Linked DNA regions of Homo sapiens. The protein of the gene in region 2 purifies or fractionates together with the protein of the main gene of each other region. This does not show direct contact. Each region holds a gene or a part of one and is shown on either strand. Other genes may lie near its edges. The genes, in order: PREPL and DHRS4L2.

Region 1 (3,823 bases), on a different chromosome or scaffold from region 2:
TCTTAAATGACTACTTCTCAGTACCATTTGCTTGCTGCACCTCTTAGAAATAATCATTGTTACCCACTTAGTGTATTATCTTTTAGATAGGTTTTATTTGGTTTTACAAACATGGAATTAGACTAGTCTATCAAAATGTTGCAATTATTGGACCCGAGATGGAAAGAACAGTTAAGCACCATGTTCTTGGAGAGCCAAGAGGGGAGAAGGGAAGCAGCTGCTGAATGGAAGCGCTATACCTTTCCACAGGCATTTTAGTACTGCTGGCAAACCCAGATCCAGCCCATCACAGGAGTAGCTACTGTTTTACCTCTTCCTTTCAAAACTTTTCAACAAGCAACTTTTTCTGATTGTATAATTGAAGTTGGGGAAGAGTTGGGAAGTGAAAAGACCAAGAGTGTTTTATAGAAATTAATCTACATCAAGTTTTATAAAAGTGAATCTTACTAAAAGTGAAAGTTAACAATGTCATAACAACTTGGGTATTTTAAAGAAGAATGAGAGGAGAATTTCCTCCTTATTTGATTACATTTTGCTGTCTCCAGTTATTGCCCCAAAGTGAAGTTTTCAAAATGAGAATGAAAATATGAAGAGTGACTTGGATGTATTATTTATTTTCTTTATGTAAACGGTGCTATTTCATTAGTTTAAGCAGGGTGAAAACCAATTTCTTTATCTTTTTTGTGTGAAAGGTAGATCAGAATTAGTTCTTTTGTCTGTTCAGAGACTGCCTAGTTTCAATCAACTGGAACTGATGAGTTTGAGCTACATTGGGGGATGGTTACATAACCTACAAGTAACTTAGTAACCTTACAAATAATTTAACTTACTTTAACCCTACAAAGAATTTTACCGAAAAATTTTAAGACCACTTTAAATTTTTTTTAATAAAGTTAAATGGGCCTTTGAAGAGGATTGTGGTAGTTATCAGTAACATCAGTAAGATTTCAGGTCTTAATGGTTGAGAATTCCGACTACAGAGGATATAGAAAATTGAGCTGGTAAGACTTTAGTCAGCATATTTGTAGATACTCAAAAGTGAAAAATGCCAATATCTAGCTCTTAGGCATAGGAAGAGTGCTATACTAGGACTTCTAACCTTGGTAAGTATTTTGGTTTCATCTGAAAATTTAAAATTATAGTAGGTAGTGAAGAACTCTTTAAAATTACATTATTGTCATGAAAAGCTGCATTTAATAAAATGTTTTCAGGCCAGTCTTGCTGCTCTTTTCTGGTTAATACTGTAGGACAGCAAGGTAGCTGAAACCAAAAGCCATGATTTATTTTTAGAGACCATAATTCTTTTTCTTAAACAAATTTGTGCTCAACATCAGTAGGTAGCACACAAGTGGGGACAGTGCACCTCAATGTATTTTAAATTGGGATAAAACAGTTATTATAAAAGACTCTTCTTTACATACATAGTAATTCTTCATTTCTAGGATGGAAAATTAGTGCCAATGACTGTTTTCCACAAAACTGACTCTGAGGACTTGCAGAAGAAACCTCTCTTGGTACATGTATATGGAGCTTATGGAATGGATTTGAAAATGAATTTCAGGCCTGAGAGGCGGGTCCTGGTGGATGATGGATGGATATTAGCATACTGCCATGTTCGGTGAGTCAGTATATTTTACCTGGCATGTAAGTGCTAGACCATTGTGAGAGATGTCAAGAATAACAATATATATCAGGGAACAAAAGCTTATTTTTTTCATTCTTATTATTCAATTTTTGTATTCCTAAACCAGCACTGGTGAAACTTGATTCTTTAACAGATTAGTTGATCCAAAAAGCAAAAGGATAGGTTTTTAGGATTTTTGCATAGAGGTACCAGACTCTGTACTTATTTAGTAATATTATTATTTCCTTTCAGTTCTCCTGAATTCAGGTTTAAGTAGCCTCTGAATCTGAACTGTTTTCCATTTAACTTCCATTTTATTTCAGCTGTTTTCAAGACACAAATATTATTTTGTATTTCTGCTTAAAATTCTTCTCCACCTCCCCATCTCTAGAACACAGTCCAGATTCCCCAGTATAATACTCCTAATGGTCTGATGGATCTCTGTAGCGGCATTTAGCATCAGACCCTTTTTTTTTTTTTTTTTTTTTTTTTGTTTGAGACAGTTTTGCTTTGTCGCCCAGGCTGGAGTGCAGTGGCACAATCTCGGCTCACTGCAACCTCTGCCTCCCAGGTTCAAGTGATTCTCATGCTTCAGGCTCCTGAGTAGCTGGGACTACAGGCGCACACCACCACACTGTCTGAATTTTTTTTTTTTTTTTTTTGAGATAGAATCTTGCTCTGTCGCCCAGGCTGGAGTGTGCAGTGGCATGATCTTGGCCAGGGTTCAAGCGATTCTCCTGCCTCAGCCTCCTGAGTAGCTGGGATTACAGGTGCCTGCCATAACTCCTGACTAATTTTTGAAATTTTTGTAGCGATGGGGTTTCACCATGTTGGCCAGGCTGGTCTCGAACTCCTGACCTCAAGTGATCCGCCCGCCTCAGCCTCCCAAAGTGCTGGGATTACAGGCATGAGCCACCGTACCAGCCCGATTTTTTTGTATTTTAGTAGAGACAGGGTTTTCCAATGTTGCCCAGGCTGGTCTCGAACTCCTGAGCTCAAGCAGTCCGCCCGCCTCAGCCTTCCAAAATCATGTCCTTTTATTTTTTTTATTTTGTTTTGTATTTTTTTGAGATGGAGTCTCACTCTGTCTCCCAGGCTAGAGTGCAGTGGCGCAATCTCCGCTCACTGCAACCTCCGCCTCCCAGGTTCAAGTAATTCTCTTGCCTCAGCCTCCCGAGTAGTTGGGCTTATAGGCACGCACCACCACACCTGGCTAATTTTTTCTATTTTTAGGAGAGACGGGGGTTTCACCATGTTGGCCAGTCTGGTCTCAAACTCCTGACCTCAAGTGACCTGCTCACCTCAGCCTACCAAAATGCTGAGATGACAGGCTTGAGGCACTGTGTCCAGCCCCCAAAGTCATGTCTTTTAAATGACATGCTCTGTCACCTCCTTGCCCTTATACATGCTGTGTCGTATCTGTGTCTTAATGCCTTTTCTTTGCCCTCTGGAAACTCAAATTTTTCCTTCACAACTCAGTTTAGGCATCATCTCCTTAAAAGCATTTGTGTTCCTGACTCGTGTATATACCCCTCACCTGGCAGATGGATGTTCTTTCCTCTGCTCCTGTAATACCTTAAATACACTTGTATTGTAGCAATGACACCACATTGCTGGGTAAGTCGTTGTTTTCTTACCCCACAAAATTACTGTCTTCTCCACGGTAGGGGATTTTCGTTTGTTTCTACTTTTAAGGTCTGTACTTAATCCCTGATAAATGGGCAGGCACTCAAAATATATTCGTTGAATCAATTCTGGATTGTCTATATCAGGAGTTGGCAAACCTTTTTCTCTAAAGAGCTACATAGTCACATTTTAAGCTTTGCAGGCCGCGTACAGTTTCTGTTGCACATTCCTTGTTTTCACTCAACCTTTAAAAAGCAAAAACCAGTCTTAGCTCCAGGGCCACACAAAAAACAGGCCTCCAGGTGTAGTTCGCTGACCCCAGCCTACAGTATTAACTTTTTTTTTCCACTAAAACTTTTTTGCCCTTCAATTTCAGAGGTGGTGGTGAGTTAGGCCTCCAGTGGCACGCTGATGGCCGCCTAACTAAAAAACTCAATGGCCTTGCTGATTTAGAGGCTTGCATTAAGACGCTTCATGGCCAAGGCTTTTCTCAGCCAAGTCTAACAACCCTGACTGCTTTCAGTGCTGGAGGGGTGCTTGCAGGAGCATTGTGTAATTCTAATCCAGAGCTGG
Region 2 (3,823 bases):
AGTTCAACCATTGTGGAAGTCAGTGTGGCGATTCCTCAGGGATCTAGAACTAGAAATACCATTTGACCCAGCCATCCCATTACTGGGTATATACCCAAATGACTATAAATCATGCTGCTATAAAGACACATGCACACGTATGTTTATTGCGGCATTATTCACAATAGCAAAGACTTGGAACCAACCCAAATGTCCAACAATGATAGACTGGATTAAGAAAATGTGGCACATATACACCATGGAATACTATGCAGCCATAAAAAATGATGAGTTCATGTCCTTTGTAGGGACATGGATGAAATTGGAAACCATCATTCTCAGTAAACTATCGCAAGAACAAAAAACCAAACACCACATATTCTCACTCATAGGTGGGAATTGAACAATGAGATCACATGGACACAGGAAGGGGAATATCACACTCTGGGGACTGTGGTGGGGTCGGGGGAGTGGGGAGGGATAGCATTGGGAGATATATCTAATGCTAGATGACACGTTAGTGGGTGCAGCGCACCAGCATGGCACATGTATACATATGTAACTAACCTGCACAATGTGCACATGTACCCTAAAACTTAAAGTATAATAATAATAATAATTAAAAAAGAAAAAAAAAAAAAAAAGAAGAGGAAAGTGAAGAATGGAAAGGGAAGAAACTGCCCATCCTCATGGTAACTGAGAGGAGGGATGGGGTGAGAGACTTCCCTCTTTCACTTCCTATTTTTTTCTAGCTCCCAGCTCTCCCCACTGCCCTCATCTGTTTCATTTGTTTCAGGTTCTAGTGATGCATTTTGCTGCGTCTCTCCAATTCTCATCCATGTAAGGAGGGAGGAAACAGTGTGAGTACAGTCTGAATACCTCAGTCTCCAGCCTATACCTCAGAAAAGGTGTGATAAGAGTGTGGCTTGTATAGGGCAGGTGGTACAGAGAGGGAATATGGGAAAGTCCAGGGAAGGAGAATGGAGTGGCTGAGAGCTCAGGACTCAGGTAGTGGGCTTCCCTGTCCAAGAAGATGGATGCCTTTCAAGGGGTCCCAGTCAAATGCAAAGCTCCCCTTCCTCACCATCCTGCTGAAGCTAGTCTTGATAAGTCCAGGTGCAGGCAGTTCACCCTAATGTTCCTTGGGGCCAGCTCTATGGCCAGGGTATTGTTGAGGCCCAGCAAGGCTGTTTTACTGACATTGTAAGGACTGAAGCCCTGGAGAAAGAAGAGAATGTGTTAGACTCATAGTTTCCAGGTCATTCTTGGTTCTAATAACTAGACATAGAGGGCAGTGCTCAGTAGGGATCTCCTGTAAGGGAGGGGCAGAGTTAGGAAACTGTCTTGTGGCTAAACCTCCCCTAGGTTATGGTTTGTGGAGGCAAGGCATCTATTTTGTGGGCAGGGACTTGGTGGTGTGATTCTACAAGGGGACACAAACTTCTTTGGGTAATAGGAGGGGTGGAAAGATGTGGAGTGGAGGGTGGGATGGAAGAGGTAGACAAAAGGGTTCTTACAGGAGATGGACTGAAGGCTGCTATGGAAGACACGATCACCACTGAGCCGCCTCTGGAAAAAGAAGAGAGCTGACCGTCTTCCCAGTGTGGACCACTGCCCTCAGCCTGTGTGGGGTCCCCTCTCACCCAGGCTCTCTCTCACTCTCTGTACCCTCGTTTCTCCATTTCTGGCACCACTGCCTTTGTCATCAGGGCTGGGGCCTTCACATTAATGTCCAGAGTCTGAAGCCAAGAGAAGAAGGGGAAACAGCATGAGTGAAGAGCACTGGAGGAGGCATGAAAAAATGAGGAGTTAGAGTGGGTTCCTAGGATGTTTGTCAGAGCTGACGAAGATCTTAGGATGATATACCTGCATCTTACACATGAAGGAACTGAGGTTCAGGGAGAAGTAGCTCTCACCAGCTGCTCAGCTAGATAATGATACATTAGGTTCAGGTGAGCAAAAATGGAGCCTGGTTCATCTTGTTTCATAATCAGCCAAGTATGATTTGGGCCAGAAGGGGCCTTTGGATTTGAGCTGTGTTTTCTCTGTTTCTTCCAAGTAGGTAGAGCCTGGAATTGTCAGCCTCCTGGACCTGCCCTAGAGTAGGCCATGCTTCTCAGGGAAAATGTGGCCTGACCTTGGATATGTGGGGTTGTTCTAGCACTTCTCTGGCTTCTGGGCTTAGGGAGTGAGATGTTCTTGGCCCTCTAGGAAGGACTGTCTGGCTAGGCATGGTTAGAAAGTGGGATCATGAGGAGTCACCTTCTGGGGAAGCTGGGGGACAGGCTACAATCAGAATCCCCACATCCATAATCTAAAACAAATGTATGACCCTGTTTACACTGTTCTAGACAACTGCTTATATTAAAATATTTCAATCTTACAGAAAAATTGGAGATAGAAGTACAATGAATGTCTAGATATCCTTCACTTAGAGTCACCAATTGTTCACATTTTGTCCTATTTGTCCTCTCTGTAGATCTGTACAGTTTTTTAAATGAACCATTGAAACTCAGTTGCAAGTTTTCTGAAAGATTTTATATAATAAAATCAAAAATTACAAAGAACAAAAATAAAAAAATGTAAATTAAAAAAAAAAAAACTCAGGGCTGGGCATGGTGGCTCATGCCTGCAATCCCTGCACTTCGGGAGGCCAAGATGGGTGGATCACTTTTAGGTCAGGAGTTCGAGAACAGCCTGGGCAACATGGCAAACCTCGTCTGTACTAAAAATACAAAAATTAGCCAGACGTGGTGGCATGTGTTTGTAATCCAAGCTACTCAGGAGGATGAGACAGCAGAATAGCTTGAACCCGGGAGGTGGAGGTTGCAGTGAGCTGAGATAGCACCACTGCACTCCAGCCTGGGTAACAGAGTGAGGCTCCATCACAAAAATAAATAAATAACCTAAAATAAAATAAGTAAACTCAGTTGCAGATAGTACAATGTTCTATCCCCAAATACTTAGCATACATTTCCAAAGAGTAAGGATTTTCTTTTACACAACCATAATCTGTTATCACAACCAAGAGTTTGACAATGATGATAATTTTATCTAACATATTGGCCTCAATTATCCCCCAAATGTGTGTGTGTGTTTTTTAAAGTCCAGAGTTCAATCAAGGATCAGCCATTATGTTTGGATTTGACATACTGTGATAGTTTAAAAAATATACAAATTAAAAGAAAAGTTATAGACACATATTTTCTTATGCTTTGCAGATATTGTTTTTTTTTTTTTTTTTTTTTTTTTTTTTTACAAATTGGAGTTTCGTGGCAACCCTGCATTAATTCGAGCCATTTTTCCAATTGCATGTGCTCACTTTGTCTCTGGGTCACATTTTGGTAATTCTTGGAATATTTCAGACCTTTCCATTATTATTATATCTGTTACGGTGATCTGTGATGAGTGATCTTTCATGGTTTTATTATAATTGTTTTGGGGTACCACAAACCACACCCAGAAAAGAAGGTCAACTTAATTGAAAAATGTTGTGTGTTCTGACTGCTCTGCCCTTCTCTCATCTCTCTCCCTCTCTGTGGACCTCCATATTCCCTGAGACACATTTACATTGAAATTAGGCCAACTATTAACCCTACAATGGCTTGTAAGTGTTTAAGCAAAAGGAAGAGTCACACATCTTTCACTTTAAATCAAAAGCTAGAAACAATTAAGCTTAGTGAGGAAGGCATGTTGAAAGCTGAGGCAGGCTGAAAGTTAGACCATGTGCACCAGTTAGCCAAATTGTGAATGCAAAGGAAAAATTCTTGAAGGAAATTAAAAGTGCTACTTCTCTGAACATATAAATGATAAGAAAGCAAAAGAGGTTTATTGTTAATATGGA

The links.
Region 1: the proteins of DHRS4L2 (region 2) and PREPL purify together in Homo sapiens (affinity purification with mass spectrometry; one large-scale study listed by BioGRID and IntAct). This does not show direct contact.

The regions. Positions count from the first base shown.
Region 1 is NC_000002.12:44,326,732-44,330,554, reverse strand, and holds part of PREPL (prolyl endopeptidase-like), read left to right. Parts: intron 1-1,442; coding exon 1,443-1,618; intron 1,619-3,626; coding exon 3,627-3,823. UniProt on the Homo sapiens protein: Serine peptidase whose precise substrate specificity remains unclear. Does not cleave peptides after a arginine or lysine residue. Regulates trans-Golgi network morphology and sorting by regulating the membrane binding of the AP-1 complex.
Region 2 is NC_000014.9:23,998,758-24,002,580, reverse strand, and holds part of DHRS4L2 (dehydrogenase/reductase SDR family member 4-like 2 isoform 1 precursor), read right to left. Parts: intron 1,719-3,823; coding exon 1,648-1,718; intron 1,549-1,647; coding exon 1,497-1,548; intron 1,198-1,496; coding exon 1,064-1,197; intron 1-1,063.